Homo sapiens: one gene and its partners. The protein of the gene in region 3 purifies or fractionates together with the protein of the main gene of each other region. This does not show direct contact. Each region holds a gene or a part of one and is shown on either strand. Other genes may lie near its edges.

The links.
Region 1: the proteins of ADAMTSL5 (region 3) and FBN1 purify together in Homo sapiens (pull-down; one study listed by IntAct). This does not show direct contact.
Region 2: the proteins of ADAMTSL5 (region 3) and FBN2 purify together in Homo sapiens (pull-down; one study listed by IntAct). This does not show direct contact.

The regions. Positions count from the first base shown.
Region 1 is NC_000015.10:48,406,844-48,412,087, forward strand, and holds the end of FBN1 (fibrillin-1 isoform a preproprotein), read right to left. Parts: intron 4,537-5,244; coding exon 4,147-4,536; 3' UTR 1,470-4,146; downstream 1-1,469.
Region 2 is NC_000005.10:128,303,277-128,308,123, forward strand, and holds part of FBN2 (fibrillin-2 precursor), read right to left. Parts: intron 3,928-4,847; coding exon 3,859-3,927; intron 2,673-3,858; coding exon 2,547-2,672; intron 2,361-2,546; coding exon 2,235-2,360; intron 1,807-2,234; coding exon 1,681-1,806; intron 1-1,680.
Region 3 is NC_000019.10:1,509,148-1,514,994, forward strand, and holds the start of ADAMTSL5 (ADAMTS-like protein 5 isoform 2 precursor), read right to left. Parts: upstream 3,873-5,847; 5' UTR 3,816-3,872; intron 2,581-3,815; exon of another isoform or gene 2,534-2,580; coding exon of another isoform or gene 2,478-2,533; intron 2,014-2,477; 5' UTR 1,797-2,013; coding exon 1,698-1,796; intron 1,587-1,697; exon of another isoform or gene 1,584-1,586; coding exon 1,492-1,583; exon of another isoform or gene 1,407-1,491; coding exon of another isoform or gene 1,282-1,406; coding exon 1,221-1,281; intron 1,112-1,220; coding exon 1,003-1,111; intron 1-1,002. UniProt on the Homo sapiens protein: May play a role in modulation of fibrillin microfibrils in the extracellular matrix (ECM).

The DNA of each region.
Region 1 (5,244 bases), on a different chromosome or scaffold from region 3:
AAAAGGTTGATCATGTAGGTTTGATTTAATTCTCCCCAAGAGAGTATTTCAGGGTAAAAAGGAAACAGATCTCTTCTTATTTCTGCAACTCCCAGCACAGCTGCAAAGAATACATCAGGTGGGATATGAAAGTTAGGAAATGCTCAATGGAGCAGCTGCTTTTTGCTTAAAATCTCCACCTCTGTGTTGCTTAGATTTGAACCCAAGCTATGGATTCCAGAAGTACTTGGAAGGCTTGATGCCTTCTAGCTGACACCATAACCAACCCACAGGGGGCACAGGGGAGCACAGAGAGGATAATTTTGCCTTCATTTATGAAATGGGGATGGTCACAAAGATCAAAAATCACAATGAAGAGATAGCAGAGGGTGGAGCTAGCCAGAAATCGCATCCACTTACCTGCTATAACTTGGTTCAGTCCTTCTACCATCCAACAGTAAAAAATGAAACTGACATCCATTTGTAGAAGTTATAATTCAGATTTTTTTTTTCTTTTTCTTTTGAGATGGAGTCTTACTCTTCCATGCAGGCTGGAGTGCAGTGGTGTAATCTCAGCTCACTGCAATCTCCGCCTCCTGGGTTCAAGTAATTCTCCTGCCTCAGCCCCTCGAGTAGCTGGGACTACAGGTGCGCACCATCATGCCTGATTACGTTTTGTGTTTTCAGTAGAGATGGGGTTTCACCATGTTGGCTAGGCTGGTCTCAAACTCCTGACATCAAGTGATCTGCCCACCTTGGCCTCCCAAAGTGCTGGGATTACAGGCATCAGCCACAGTGCCCAGCCATAATTCAGGTTTGAATCAAGGATTCAAAGCAACCTATGTCCTAAAACAAGGTTTATGACTTTGTTTGAAAAAAAGAAACCATTTTAGATTTATTAGCAGTTAGTTGAAACAACAGATTTTGTGATTTTTGTCAGGTCTTGCCAAATGCATGTCAAATGTACAAGACCCTCATGTTTATGCAGATATTTGTGAGAATGTCTTTAACTGAGATCCAATCCTGTGAATAAAACCAGTCATGAATATACATGGAAATTTGCAAAGTCAAGTGTACAGCCCTTTTCTATCTCTCCAACCCTAACACTCAGAATAATATAGATCATCCTTTCCTAACTCATACGTAATGTCAGGCTCATACTGGGTTTCAAAAAAAGCATAATGAAGTAAATTGTTTTTTTTTTCTTCTCTCTTTTTTACAAAGTGTTATTTTAAATTGGCAAGGGGTAAATATCTGTCTTCAGCTATAAATGTGAAACTAATATTTCTGCCAGTAATGATCTTCTAACTTTAAAAACAATGTCCTTAAATCATTTAATAATTACATTCCTAATAATTACATTTCTAATACAGTTCTCTAAGAACTACAGTTAAAACCAGAATAAAATATATTCTGTGGACCAAGTTGATGGTAATTTTAAAATCCCTAACATTTATGGGTATATAACTTTTAAGGATACTAATGCAGCATCAACCCAATTGTCCTTTATTTTGGCTCATCTAATTTACAGACATGATTTCTGAAGTTTAACAGTATTTGTAATGGCAATATCCAAAGTGATTTTGGCTGAGTAAACTGCTATTTGTTGAACAAAAATGTAGTTGTTTGTGCAAGTTTAAACATTTCACAAGGCCAGCTGAGTTCATTTCAACCCTACTTACAAAATAATTATTGGCAAATGAAATGGGCTGAGGGGGTAGAGACAAGATATTTTCAAGCTTCTGAGAGATTTACAAAGCCAAGTTCTTCAACTATTGAAAGTGAAATTGAAAGGTCACAGACAATTGAAAGGTACAGGTTTAAATCTCAGGATTAAAAAGAGTTCCAACAAGAGGAATATTTACAATGGAACAATGAGGAAAATGTTTTGTTACAGTCAGAAACATGGAAAATATGCTGTTCAAAATTGTTGGCTCAGGAATAAATAAAATCCAGACTTGGACTATTAAAAATATCAAAGTGATCCACTGTGTGCCAACTCCATTTTCCCCTGTTGTTTGTTATAAAGAAAATCCGTTATTGAATATAATGCAGTTCTGGTTAAATTATCAAAGACATTTTCCATATGCAAACTGTTGTTTACCATATGCTATATATTCTTCGATAACAATTTTAATACACCTCTATCACATGGTTCCATAGGTGCAGCGTTAGAAGGAAATTTTGAGTTATATTTTAATCTCTTACCCAAGGTACAAACCCCCTTTGTAACAGCCATTCAGCTCATTCTGTTGAGCACCTATTATAAACAAAATTAGAGATACAAAAATACCTTTAAGATGTTAATGGCCTGTTAGGTGGAAGAAAGCATCTTTGTCCAATGGTTGCCATTAAGCCTAGACTGAAACTCTTCTATCTTGTGACAGGGAGCTCACCACAATGCAAGGAAACCCATTCTTTCAGTGAGTAGCTCTATAATTGGGACCGTGTGTATTAAACTGGGGCTGACATCAGCTGACCCTGGTTTTGCCTTCCGGAATAGTATGAGCCAAATCTACTCCATTTTTTTCAGCTGAGCTCTTCAAAGATTTTTGAGAGCACTTTCCTGTGTCCTACCTAGTTTCTCCGCCCACCACCTTCATGCCATCTTATTTCCTCTTATTTTCACTACCACGAAATGCTTTCCTGCCCTTAGGGATTTAAAAAATTATTTCATATCGACGGATTGAGCCTAACAGCTAAATACTCAATATTGCACTTAAAATAAAACAGACTTTAAAAATTATGACATTAAGAAACCAAAAGTTACAGCAATTGGATACAGTCTGGGATTATCCCTTTGTAATTAGATGAGCATTGACTAACGAAAGATGTTTAGGGGAAAAAAAAATGGAACAGAACACCTAAGGCTTGCCAAAACTGTGTATATTTGAGAGGGGGGCATGATAAATCTATTATAATGAAATTCATGTGCTCTAAGACAATGACTGAACTTGGTATTTAAGACTATTTAAAAGTCACAAGATGAATTAGGTCATGTTTCAGAAATGACTCTACAATCTAAATTTCTCACAAGCAAGTCAGGTTAATGACACCAGACTCTGCTACTTTCAATGGATAAAACAAGGGATCGACTCATATGTTAAATTTTCTTCTAGTGGTTATACATTTGGTACTTTCATAAGCCATAAGTAAGAGACCCAGGATAATTTAAATCCAGGAGACTTTATTTAGCCTCCGGAATGGCCCCTCCAACCCCAAATCCATGCAAGAACACAAAGCCAAGGGGTAAACTAAAAAAAAGAAGAGATTGTTTTATTGTGACATTTATGACATTGACCCCTTGTTGACAGGAATGACCGAGGGTAATCTTGGCATATTGCACATGCTGTGATGAAGGATGCACTGGTGATCCTCTGGCCACTGAGGCTGTTTCCTGGTCCTCCCAGACCTCTATGCACGTGTGGGCCAGTCACCGAAATTTCATTACCACTTGGTGTATACATTTAACAAGTCTTTGGTCTTAATAAGCACCATTACAAACCCTCACATTAAGGGCATTATTATTCTAGTTTATAAATGTTTCAATGATAAAAAATAGCACGATTACAGTATACACACACTTAATTTACATGTAATGTATTATACTCATAACTGAGATAAGCTACTGAACTAACTTTGGTTGATTGAAATTAATGAAGTATTGGAACTGAATACTTGTAATTTGGTTTCTAAGTTGTGTACATATTACAGTGCATTTATAAATCTAGTTTGAAAATTTACTAGCACCAAATAGGTACCATAAATGGACAACCTAGTACTTGTATTTGGAGAAGCAAAGTTTACAAATTTGCAAAAAATAGAGTAGTCCATCAATTGAAAGCACATTCCCGTACGTTTGCTGGAAGGATGGCATGTCAGCATAAATGGCCAACCCCCAATGGAAATACACGTCCCAGTTTTCAAGAATCAACACATATGACAAGGTAGCTTAGCTACACACATGAGAAGCCTGAGAAAGTGGTTGTTTTGAACTAGGGTAGTCACCTGTACCTTGCTTTGGTAATACAAAGAATAGTGCTTATTTATACAAATTTACTTGGTGAAAGATTGTACCTATGATATGATGATTCTGATTGGGGGAAAATATAGTTCTACCTATCTATATTTGTTTTTCTTTTAATTATTTGGTCTCTGGATGGTGAATTAATGAAGCAAAACCTGGATTTTCATCTTCAGATTATCACCCAGTTCACCACTGAGGTAGTCTTTGTCATATTTGTCTTCTAGTTGGTTAAGTTCTTTCTTTTTATAAAGTGGAGTACTACTGATTTGTAATGAATAGGTTCCAGCCACTGGCTTCTTCTTTGTGAAGTGGAGGTAGCTGATCCCTTCCTTTTGGTTGATTTTAAAGAAGCCATCTTCATTTCCAGATTCGATCAAGTATCTGTTGTGATTCGTCAGAGTTGTAAGAGCTGGAAGGAGTTCTAGGATTCGAACCTTGTTACTGACGTGGGAAATATTGAAAGCAAAGATGGCTGTCTTCTCAACATCCCAACTTGCAAGACTCACATTGGCTTCTGTCTCAGACTGATCCTGGAAAGACACATGGCAATATGTTAAATACAATGTACATATGCCACTTAGCTCTCATATTAAAGAAAAAATGACTCAAATTTCACACTAATACAATTTTCTGCCTTATGCTGCATACACAATATTGAAAGCATTTTGTTTAGACCACAAGTGTATTAAATTGGCACATATTTGTAATATTTGAAAATATTAACTGATGTCAGGAAGAAAGGCAGGTTGAAATCATTTGTATCTGGAGGTCTCAAAATGTAGTCCCTGAACAAGCTGCATCAGCATCACCTGGGAATCTGTTAGAAATGCAAATTCTCGGCATCACCCCAGAACTACTGAATCAGAAACCCTGGGATGTCTCCCAACAATCAATTTTAACAAGACCTAGTAGGTGATTCAGATGCATGCTAAAGTTTGAGAACCACTGTTTTAATAGATTATGTTCTTTCCAAAGACTTATCTCATTTCTTAAATGACAGCAGATGGGTTGCAGCACCAATACGAAGAACCAGACTATTTCAATTTGATTCATTGACGTAAAACCATCTTCTCCTAAGGACACACCTATGAGCCTACTTCCTGACTGTGATGATCTGCTAATATTCAATGCTTTTCACCTGGCTTCTTACTTGCCTCTCTGGGACCACATGTGCTGGATTCTATGGGCCCAGAGCCAGAGGTCTGGGTGAATATCTGTGCACTTCTGAGTTGACTGAA
Region 2 (4,847 bases), on a different chromosome or scaffold from region 3:
AATTCTAAGAAAATAGTACAGTTTAACAGGTACTGACTGTACTCAGACAATACTCAGACATAGCCTAAGAGAGCATCCCCCTAGTAGAGATGTATTAATGAGCAGGTCTGCTTAATAATCGTAAATAAAACTGATCTTCTAAAATACTGAAACAATTTCTTTCATAATAAAAGGCATTATAAACACTTACCCAGAAATTTAAATCCCTTAATTTGAGCAGAAAAACAAAGACAAACTTTAGTTTACTTAATTGTATGAAGTAATGAAATCCAAATTGAGGTTTATTAGAATTCACTATTAGCCTTCAAAAAAACTGAATTAAGAAAATATTTAGAAAGGTCATTCATCATATGAGACAGCAGACTCCCCAACTATGAATTCCAGGCTGCTGAAACTCTACCACACCAAAAAAAGGGTGGGGGCTGGTATTGTTCTTTAGGAAGGAAGCTCTGTATAAGGGAGGTCTTACTGAAGAATCTGACTAGCTTTTATCATGGAAGAATTGTTATGAGTGGACAGATTTTCCCCATACGAAATTCTGAATCATAAATCTCATATTTTTTTTTGGTAAATCATACTCTCTCTGGGAGTACAGCAAGAAGAAGCATGTATAAACAAGCATTCTTAGGGAGTTCATGCAAATAAGACCAGATCCTGTATATTCCTTTGTATAAACATCACCTAGAGAATTTTCCCTGCCATTATAGGAGAAGTCCAAAGGGAGGGCTTTAGGAGGCAATGGATGAACCTGGAGACATACTCCAGGTATTCCCTGTTGTATGGATGTGTCATGAAGGAAACCAGTCCTGCAGTACTGAAATCTGATTTTAATATTCACATAGATAATATCTTGAATATCAAGAGTAGCTGAACAGCCCTAGCCTTTTCTACACTGAGAAAATGCTAATTACAAGTAGCCAAGTTTTAAATTTAATTTTCCCCTTTCAAGTGCAAAGCACAGAAAGAAAACTCTTCAGCAGAGGCAGAGCCAACTGCTGACATCAGACTTAAGGGGTTATACTCAGTCCCAGCTTCATGGCATCCAGCCCATCTGTCTTTGAAAACCTATTAATCATCAGCTCAGCAAGTACTCACTAAGCTCTATTACCACTTGGCTACCCATTACATTAGCTACTGGGAATTTTTAAAGAGTTTGGCTATATTTGCTCCTAAAGCTATTTTTAAGGGATAAAACACAAAATATGTACATAAATCCCACTATTCAACAATTTGTTTTAAAAAAGTATGTGCATATGTGTATAAATTTATTAAGTTTAATGCTGTCACTCTTACTACTCTCTTGCATTCCAAAATGGTGTCTTGAGTAGAAACATGAAAGTAAAGGGCAGCGGGTGCTATGGTAAGTTCCACACAAGCCCAAGTGGCTCAGAGGGTTTTTTCTTGTCAAGCCATGTGAACATCTTCTGGAGAAAAAGCTGTGAATCACTGAACTGACGAACATATCGCAGTATGTCCCTGCTTGCAAATTTTATATATTGCAGTATGTCCCTGCTTGCAAATTTTATATTGAATCAAGACTTAAATAGTTTGACCTAGTTAATTTTTTGCAAGATTGTTTCTGACAGAGACATAGTAGTTACTCATGGCACTTGATGGAACTGTGATCTGTTCTGGAACCCCAGCCCCACTTCACTCCCTGGAGCCACATGCCCTTCTTACCCATGCACATGGTCTGGTCCTGAGAAGCCTTAAAGCCATTGTGGCAGATGCACTGGTAACTTCCTTGCAGATCAACACACAAGCCATGACTGCAAACGTTAGGAATTTCTAAACATTCATTGCGATCTAAAACAGAAAAAAATAAATGTTACATGTATCTGATTTTTATTAAGATTTCTTCATTTTTCACAGTTGTGTTTCTCTAATCTGCTATTAATTATTATAGGCAGGCTGAAAATGAACCATAACAACAGCTGAATCAAAATGAGCAGGACTTCAAAGTATCCAACCCTCTTTTTTTAATCATGCAAATTTTTTTATGTTTATTGGTATCTGAAGGATATTATTTTATTTTAGGTCCAATCCTGGGGAAATCCATTGAAGAGATCTATTTTCTTAACAAAATCATCTAAAAGATATGGTGAAATAGGTTCACTATAAATGAACAGGTTAAGTGAGAAAATCTTTCCCAAATTATTCTTGAAGTATTTTTTGATAGGAAATCTAAGGAATCTTGTGCTCAGTGCCAAAGAATGAGTCAGCCTCTTTCTTACCTACACAGGCCCCATTGGGTGAAAGTTTGAAACCCGCGGCACATTCACAGCGGTAACTACCAGGACTATTGATGCAGTCTGCATTCCGCTGGCAGAGATTATCACCATTGCTGCACTCATCTATATCTGAAAGAGCAACAATTCCATTTTAAAGAGTCCTTTTTAGTATTGTATTAGCATTACATTCACGTCACACTTTGATGATCAACTCTTGAAAAATTGTAGAAGAAATAGTAAAAATCAGAAACCATCTAAATGCTATATATGTATACCAAATTATACTGGATAAAGGACATACTTTATTCAGATTACCTTCACAAACCAACAGCAGGTCATTGTAACTGAATCCTGTAGGGCATTCACAGCGGAAACTGCCAATCTGGTTAATGCACACACCATTTGCACAAATGCCTGGAATCTCTTTACATTCATCAATGTCTGAAATGGAACAGATTTGGTCAAATATATGTTGTTCTGTTTAATATACTTACCATATAACTTTGAATAATGCTACATGTACCCTGGGATGAGTACAAATATTCAGTGTCACAAAAATCTATTATATACTAGTATAGCTAATTTTTTTGGTTTATAAAAACATATATACCAGAAAATAGAAACAGTGATGGAAAAAATCTAAGTAGCTGATAAAATATACCAAGTAATTTCAGAGTCAATATAGCAAATGAACTTTCTAGGCAATCAAACCCCTTCTTCAGGTTACCCTAAGTGCTGCTATTCATTTGTTTAAAAAGCTATGTTTTCATCATTGTATGTATTTTATTTTATCATATATTCATAATGGAGACTTAAAATTATATTGCTTAGGCCAGGTGTGGTGGCTCACGCCTGTAATCCCAGCACTTTGGGAGGCTGAGGAGGGTGGATCACCTGAGGTCAGGAGTTCTAGACCAGCCTGACCAACATGGTGAAACTTCCATCTCTACTAAAAATACAAAAAATTAGCCGGGTGTGGTGGTGGGTGCCTGTAATCCCAGCTACTCAGGAGGCTGAGGCAGGAGAATCACTTGAACCTAGGAGACAGAGGTTACAGTGAGCTGAGATCGCGCCATTGCACTCCAGCCTGGGCAACAAGAGCAAAACTCCATCTCAAAAAAAAAAATTATATTGCTTATCAAATCTTTGAGGAAGGAAGCTAGAGTGAGCAACACAATGTACATTTAGAAGGAATTAATTAATATGAAAAATAAGTCTGCACATTCATATTTAGACCAGTAAAAAGGGATACTGCAAAAATACACCAAAAATTAAAAAATGTACTTAAGAAAATAGCAACTAAAGGTTAAAATAAGGTAGATTATTTAGAGTCATGTAATACAATGTGCATGACAAGGACAACTGAAGCTTTAGCTTGGTGGATGTGACAAATATCGAGAGAGTCACATAACTACCATAACCCAATCACCAGACTACGCTGATGGAGTATCATTATTAATACTTGGTTAGAGTCTGTAAGCCTGTTATTTCTCTCTTATCTAACTATATTAGATTGGATCCCAGATTATTATATTTTGTGGTACTCTTGAATTTTAAAAACATAGAATAGATTTTTACAGAATGCTACACATATGTATTAAAACAAACATAATCTGGAAAAACTCACCAACAGCTTTTCCTGTGTGAATGTCAAAGGTGAATCCAGGAATATTTCCACATATGGTTTTAAAGTCAGCTTTAAAATATAAACAAAGCAATGCACTCTTAAATTTCTCAAATTCCTTCAAAATAACATTTTGTATTACTTTCACAAACAAATATATTTTACATTATTCACAACCAGACATTTTGATTTCAATTATATTTATTTGATAGCAATGCCAGCTTCTGCTAGGAGTGGATCTAGGCATTCTTTACCATTATTATCATTGTTATTTCTATTACTCTCATTAACTTTTTACTGCTCTGATATCAGAAGGCAAGTAAATCATTATAAGATTCAAAATGTCCATTTAGATATTTAAATACTTTTTCTTTTAATATGCAGAGCTTTAAAAAACATCCAATACATAAAGATTAAAAAAAAAGAGAAGTACAAATTGAAAAAGGAATTACAGATTGCACAAAGGTATAGACATGCAAAAATAATGTTGTAGAGGGGAAATAGGTAAACAATGTATAATGAATGAGATGCGAATTTTGTCTTTTTTTTTTTTACTGTGTCTATTGGAATGTGAAATTTGAGTCATCAAAAACAATGCATTATGAAATAAAATAGGGACTATAAGAAGTATTCTTACACATAATTAACCAAATCAATGGAAATTTAAAAGAATTCTAATTTGCAAGATGAAAAATGCTTCTGACGCTCACTGCTATACAAGTGAGTAAAACTCCTGAAAACAGTATTATATAAAACTTAAACTGCATACTATATTCCAAGTGCTATCAGGTCAGGGATATTGTATATTTCATCCATCAATATATACCGAGTATTGAGAACAGATAGAAAGACCACAGATGCTCAACTTAATGGTTTCTAATTGTCTGGAAATCTTCAAATTATAATTTATATGTATAATCTCCCTAATTGTCATTGCACCCATATGAATTAGTCACTGTAATTATTTATTATTCCTATTTTATACATGAGAA
Region 3 (5,847 bases):
CGGAGGCTGAGGCAGGAGAATCGCTTGAACCAGGGAGGTGGAGGCTGTAGTGAGCCAAGATCATGCCACTGCACTCCAGCCTGGGTGACAGAGCGAGACTCCATCTCAAAAAAAAAAAAAAAAAAAAAAAAAGAAGATCTGAGCATCTGGCCCAGGCACCAGCAAGTACCCAATGAAGTGTTTGTCCAGTACTGACTGGACTGAGTCCCGCACAACTGAGCTGTGTCGCTGGTCCTCCCTGGGCCTCAGTTTCCCCTTCTGCCTGGAAGTGGGGCAAAATGAGCTGTCTGATCAAACACAAAGGCCGACAGCCCTGATCTCCACTCCTCCTTCTCCAGCTCCTTCTGGCTCCCATTTCCCTGAGCCTGGCTGGTGGACCCTGCCTGGAACGGATCCTGGGCTGGCCCTAGTGGGCCTCTGCGGGGGTGGGATCACAGCAGGTTTCCTCCAATTCTCAGATTGATGGAAGGAAGGAAGGGAGGGAGGGAGGGAGGGAGGGAGGAAGGAAGGGAAGGGAGAAAGGGAAGGAAGGGAAGGAAGAAAGGGAAGGAAGGAAGGAAATGAGGTTGATGGATGGCACTTTGTCCATTCTAGGCTTTTCTTATATCTGTGTCTGCCTTCCCCATGGCGTGTGAAGCTGCCTGTCTCCCTGAAATCTGGAGGCGCACTGACCCGGGCACGTAGTTATATAACTCGCTATTTTCAGCTCAATGCAGCAACATTTCCTGCTACTGGGATAAGTTTGAGAAGTGTTGGCCTCTGGATACAGCTCTAAGTCAATCCTTAGTTGGGTGTTCAGCCCTGTGCAGAATGAACCCTGCTTCCCTCTGCCCCTGTTTCACGCCTAACATATGCTGTTTCTGTTTCACTAACTCCTACATATCCTTCAAAGCCCTAGCACTAATACCCTCTTCTCTTTGCAACCCTCCAAGACCCTCTCCCTGAGACTAATGAGTTGTTCGCTCTGGACCAATTCTGACCACAGGAGACCAGACTACTCACCCCCATGGAAGGGCACCCACTGGTAGGTCTTCTGGGTGCCCAGGACAGGGCGGCCATTGTACAGGGCACACTGTAGGTCTCGGAAGGGCACAGCCCCTGGGGGGCAGTCCTAGGGACAGAGATAGGTGAGCCAGAGGCTGGGACAACCCCAAGGGGCAGGTGGTGGGCTTCAGGCAGTCTGGGGTGGGAGAGTGGTCTGGGAGGTGGGCAGGGCTTACTGGCAACTGGCAGAGGCGGTACTCATGGGAGTCTCCCCAGCACGGTTCTTCCCCAGGAAGCCTGAAGGGAGACAGAGTGTGGCGAGAACCCCCAGGGACCCCCTCCCAGGGCTGGCCTTCCACCCTCCGCCCCCGCCAACCCCACCCGCATTCCAGCGGGATCAGGGGGATTAAAGGGCACAGCATGTGTGGGCAGGCCGAGGGTGCGGCCAGGGGCCGGGCTGGGCCGGCGGGGGAGGAGGGGCAGGGACCCCCTCCGGGCCCCGCTCACCGGAGGCAGCGCCGGCTGCGCACAGAGACGCCACGCCCGCAGGAGCTGGAGCAGCGGGTCCAGGACACCCACGGGGTCCACTCGCCCGGACCCTACTTGGGGAGACAGAGGCACGGTCAGCCTTGTAGGGGGACGCTGGTGACCCCACACTGCTGACTGGGTCCCCATTCCCACTCGCCACCCCCTGGGCTCATGCCCCCCCTTACCTGAGCACTGACCCCCAAACCACAGTTCAGCAGGGCCCACAGGAAGAGCAGGAGGTTCTGGAAGAGGTGGGGCCTGGGGAACAGAGGGGCCGAGTCCATAGAGCCACCGCCAGAGACACAGGGTTGTGTCCCGGCTCTGCCCTGACTGGCTGTGTGATCTTGGAAAGTAACTAAACCTCTCTGAGCCCTACCTCTCGTCTCTGAAAAACGGGGTAATAGAGCCTCCCTTACAGGAAAGTTGAGGGGTCCTGTGGATCAGGTAAAGAAGACAGGAGACGTGGAGCCCGGTATGGAGAGGAAGAACTCAGAATGTCATCTGCAATTATTATTGTTGTTAGTTAGTTTGTTTTTGAGACGGAGTCTCGCTCTGTCGCCCAGGCTGGAGTGCAGGGGTGCGATCTCGGCTCACTGCAACCCTCCCCGGTTCAAGTAATTCTCCTGCCTCAGCATCCCGAGAAGCTAGGATTACAGGTGCCTGCCACCACGCCGGACTAATTTTTGCCGTTTTAGTGGAGACAGGGTTTCACCATCTTGGCCAGGTTGGTCTCAACCTTCTGACCTGAAGTGATCCACCTGCTTTGGCCTCCCAAAGTGCTAGGATTATAGGCATGAGCCACTGCACCCAGCCTACAATATTATTGATATGTGTATTGTGCTATAATGCAGACAGTAGGTGCTTAATCGATGCTTGATGATTGGAGGGATCATTCAAAAATAGTACACAGGTGCCTCCTAGGGCTGGGGCCCCCTCCCCGCCCTCCCCACCATCACTGCTTCTACCTTTCCGTGTGGCCTGAGGCCAGCCACTCCACTCTCCCAGGCCTCAGTTTCCCCATCTGTGCAGTGGGGGCCAAGTGGACTCAGTCCATGATTCTGTGACACCCTGCGGAAGGTGCGGCCGGCAGGGGCTGGATCAGGAGTTGGGTCCCTAGAAGAGGCCCTCAGCTGCACCCCGGCCCCAGGGCTCCCTCAGCTCCCAGACAGCAGGGAGTCCCCCGGATTGGGGATGGGACAGGGAGGGGGTGACCTGGCCCAGGTCCGTTCGGTGCCTCATGGCCTCATCGGCGGAGGGGGTGGGACTGAGCTCCGGGGCAGCCCGTGGAGGGAAGGGGCCACTGCTGAGGCTGGAGCAGGGAAGGGGAGGAGGCTGACTGCCTCTCTGGGCCTTAGTTTCTCCATCCTGTCAGGGCAGGGATGAAGTCACTTGCCATCCACACCCTCCTCATGACCCCAGCCTGCAGGGGGAAAGAGGGGGGAAGGGAAGCAGCCGCCAAGTGAGCCAGGGCGTCCTGCTGCCAGCAGAGCCTGAAGGCAGGTGGGTGAGCCCCGGCCCGGGCACCAGCTGGGGAAGAGGCTGGGTCCCACCTGGACCCTGTTTCCCTGGCTCCAGCATTTGGACTTCTGAGGCACCAAGGGTCTAGGGTCCTGGGTATCTCTAGGTACTGAGACAGCTGTGTGGTCTGCTGCATCCGTGCCCCTCTCTGAGCCTAGAGCCTGGGCTGGCCCAGGAAGCAGGAAGAAGTCTGCACCAGAAACTTAAAACAAGGGGAGGGGGGCCAGGTGCGGTGGCTCACGCCTGTAATCCCAGCACTTTGGGAGGCCAAGACAGGCGGATCACCTGAGGTCAGAAGTTTGGGACCAGCCTGACCAACATGGTAAAACCCCATCTGTACTAAAACACAAAAATTAGCCCGGTGTGGTGGTGCACACCTGTAATCCCAGCTACTTGGGAGGCTAAGGCAGGAGAATCGCTTGAACCCAGGAGGCGGAGGTTGCAGTGAGCCGAGATGGGGCCAATGCACTCCAGCCTGGGCGACATAGTGAGACTCAGTCTCAAAAACAACCAACCAACCAAAAAAAACAGGGGGAGGGGGCTTGACCTTCTGACCACCCCCACCGGACTCTAAGCCTGGTTTGAGGAGTGGGGGTCTAGGTGGTGAAAAGTGGGGGGCTACAAGGACCACCCTACCCCCTCCTCAATGGGCCCTGCCCAGAATCAAGGCTCTCCCCTCCCCGTGTGGGCTGCAGCCCGGACTGGCGGAGGGATCTCAAGGCAAGCCGCACCTCTGGGCCTCAGTTTCCCCCGGAGAAAGTGGGAGGATAGGCAGATGGACTTACCGGCTGCGCGGAGCCCAGGCAGCGCGTCCCGGCTCCCTGAGCGGCCCCAGGGCGAGCGGAAGCGGCGGGGCCCAAGGTGCTGGGCGGGGTGGGGAGCCTGGGACGGTCCCTCCCACCGCGGCCTCCGCAGGCGCGCCCAGGCCCGGGTCAGGAGGGGCGGCGGCCCCGGGCGCCCTCGCGCGGCGGGCGCGGATCTGCGGCAGGGGACTGCCCGGCGGACGCGAGCGCAGGGGTCCCGGAGCCGCAGGCTGGTGTCGGGCGCCCGGGTCCGGGTGACCTTGGCAGGCTCGGGCGGGGGCGCGGCGCGGGGACTGACCGCCCTCCTCTGCCCCGGGGCTGCTATTCCGGGCGCCGCGCTCAGGGCCCGGGAATGTGCGCGAACCGAGGTCACCCCGCCCTGGGTCTGGGAGTCCCGGGCGCTGCCCCTACCCCGCCGACGCCCGGATTGCGTCCCACCGGCGTCCCCATCCCCGGTCACAGCCCCCTCCCCTGGTCCTGCCCCTCACCCCTCTCGCGGGGGGTCGACCTGCTCGTGGATGGGGACCCTGGCGCGCCTGGGCTCCCATCCGGGGGTTCCCCGACCCAGGTCCCGGTCACCCCCAGCGCAGGGCCCCAGCGCACTGGGGAGAGGCTCGGCCCCGTGGGCCGCGCGCGGGGGGCGGAGAGACCCTCCCAGCTGGCGCATTCCCGGGCGCTGCTGTCACCAGGGGACGCGCCCCACCCCGCCTCCCGCCCTCCCTGCCGGGCCCCGGGGCTGCCAGCGGGGCTTCAGAGCCAGACCCGGGTCCAGGCGGTCCCTCTCCCTCACAGCCGCGGCCACACCCTCTCCGGCCTCAGTTTCCCCATCCCAGCAGTGGGCCCGGCAGGGATCTCCACCGCGAACCTTCCATCTGGAATCCGGCTCTGCGCGGACCGGCAACGCGAGGGGGCACCCCGGGACTCCCCCCACCCCACCCTTTCCCGCCGGGCGTCTGTGAGCCGCCCCGTGCCCACCCACGCAGGGATGAGACCAGGCCCTGGGTTCTGGGCTCCACCAGTTTCTGGTGTCGCCCCACGGCGCCCCCTGGCGGGCGGGCTGAGGGACTGGGGCACTAAAGGAGGGGGTGGAGGGACTGTCCTGCTCCCTGGGCTCCACCCAGGCTCGGTCTGAGCACCCCCTCCTCCAGGAAGCCCACCCTGCTGTCCCACAGCGCTGACCACAGGGAGAGAGGTTTGCTGGGGACATACAGGGTGTTGCTGGTCCAACTCAGTCTGCCCTCCAGCCTGTAGCATGTCAGCAGAGCCACCCATATGCCATTTATTGAGCACCTACTGTGTGCACAGCTGTGAACAACCCAGCCAGTCCCAGGCCAGCGGGTAAGGCAGCCCCCTGGAATGTATGACCCCCCACCTTCTGACCTGGACTATTGGAGAAAATAGCCCAGGCCCACCACTGATGGCCCCAGGTTGGGGGGTGGTGGTTGCGGGGATGTCAAGAAGGCCCTCACTGAAGGGGTCAAGAGAGAAGGGCAGGCCGGGCGCGGCGCCTCATGCCTGGAATCCCAGCACTGTGGGAGGCCGAGGCAGGCGGATCACCTGAGGTCAGGAGTTTGAAGCCAGCTTGGACAACATGGTGAAACCCAGTATCTACTAAAAATATAAAACTTAGCCAGGCATGGCGGTGAGTGCCTGTAATCCCAGCTACTCGGAAGACTGAGGCACGAGAATCGCTTAAACCCGGGAGGCAGAGGTGGCAGTGAGCCGAGATCACGCCACTGCACTCCAGCCTGGGAGACAGGCGAGACTCCGTCTCAAAAAAAAAAAAAAAAAAAAAAAAGGAAAGAAAGAAAGAAAGAAGTCAGCTCAGGACATGTGTCAATGTGTCATTAGGACAATTGTATCCTCCTCAGATGTGCCCCATTCCCAGATGTCCAGTCCACAGAGCTCCACTGGGAGTGCAGACAGCAGGCCCTGTGCCCCGCAGGGAAGGTATACAGAAAGCACAGCGCCCACAGGGAGCACACACAGCAGGCATTATGCTCTGCAGGAAGGG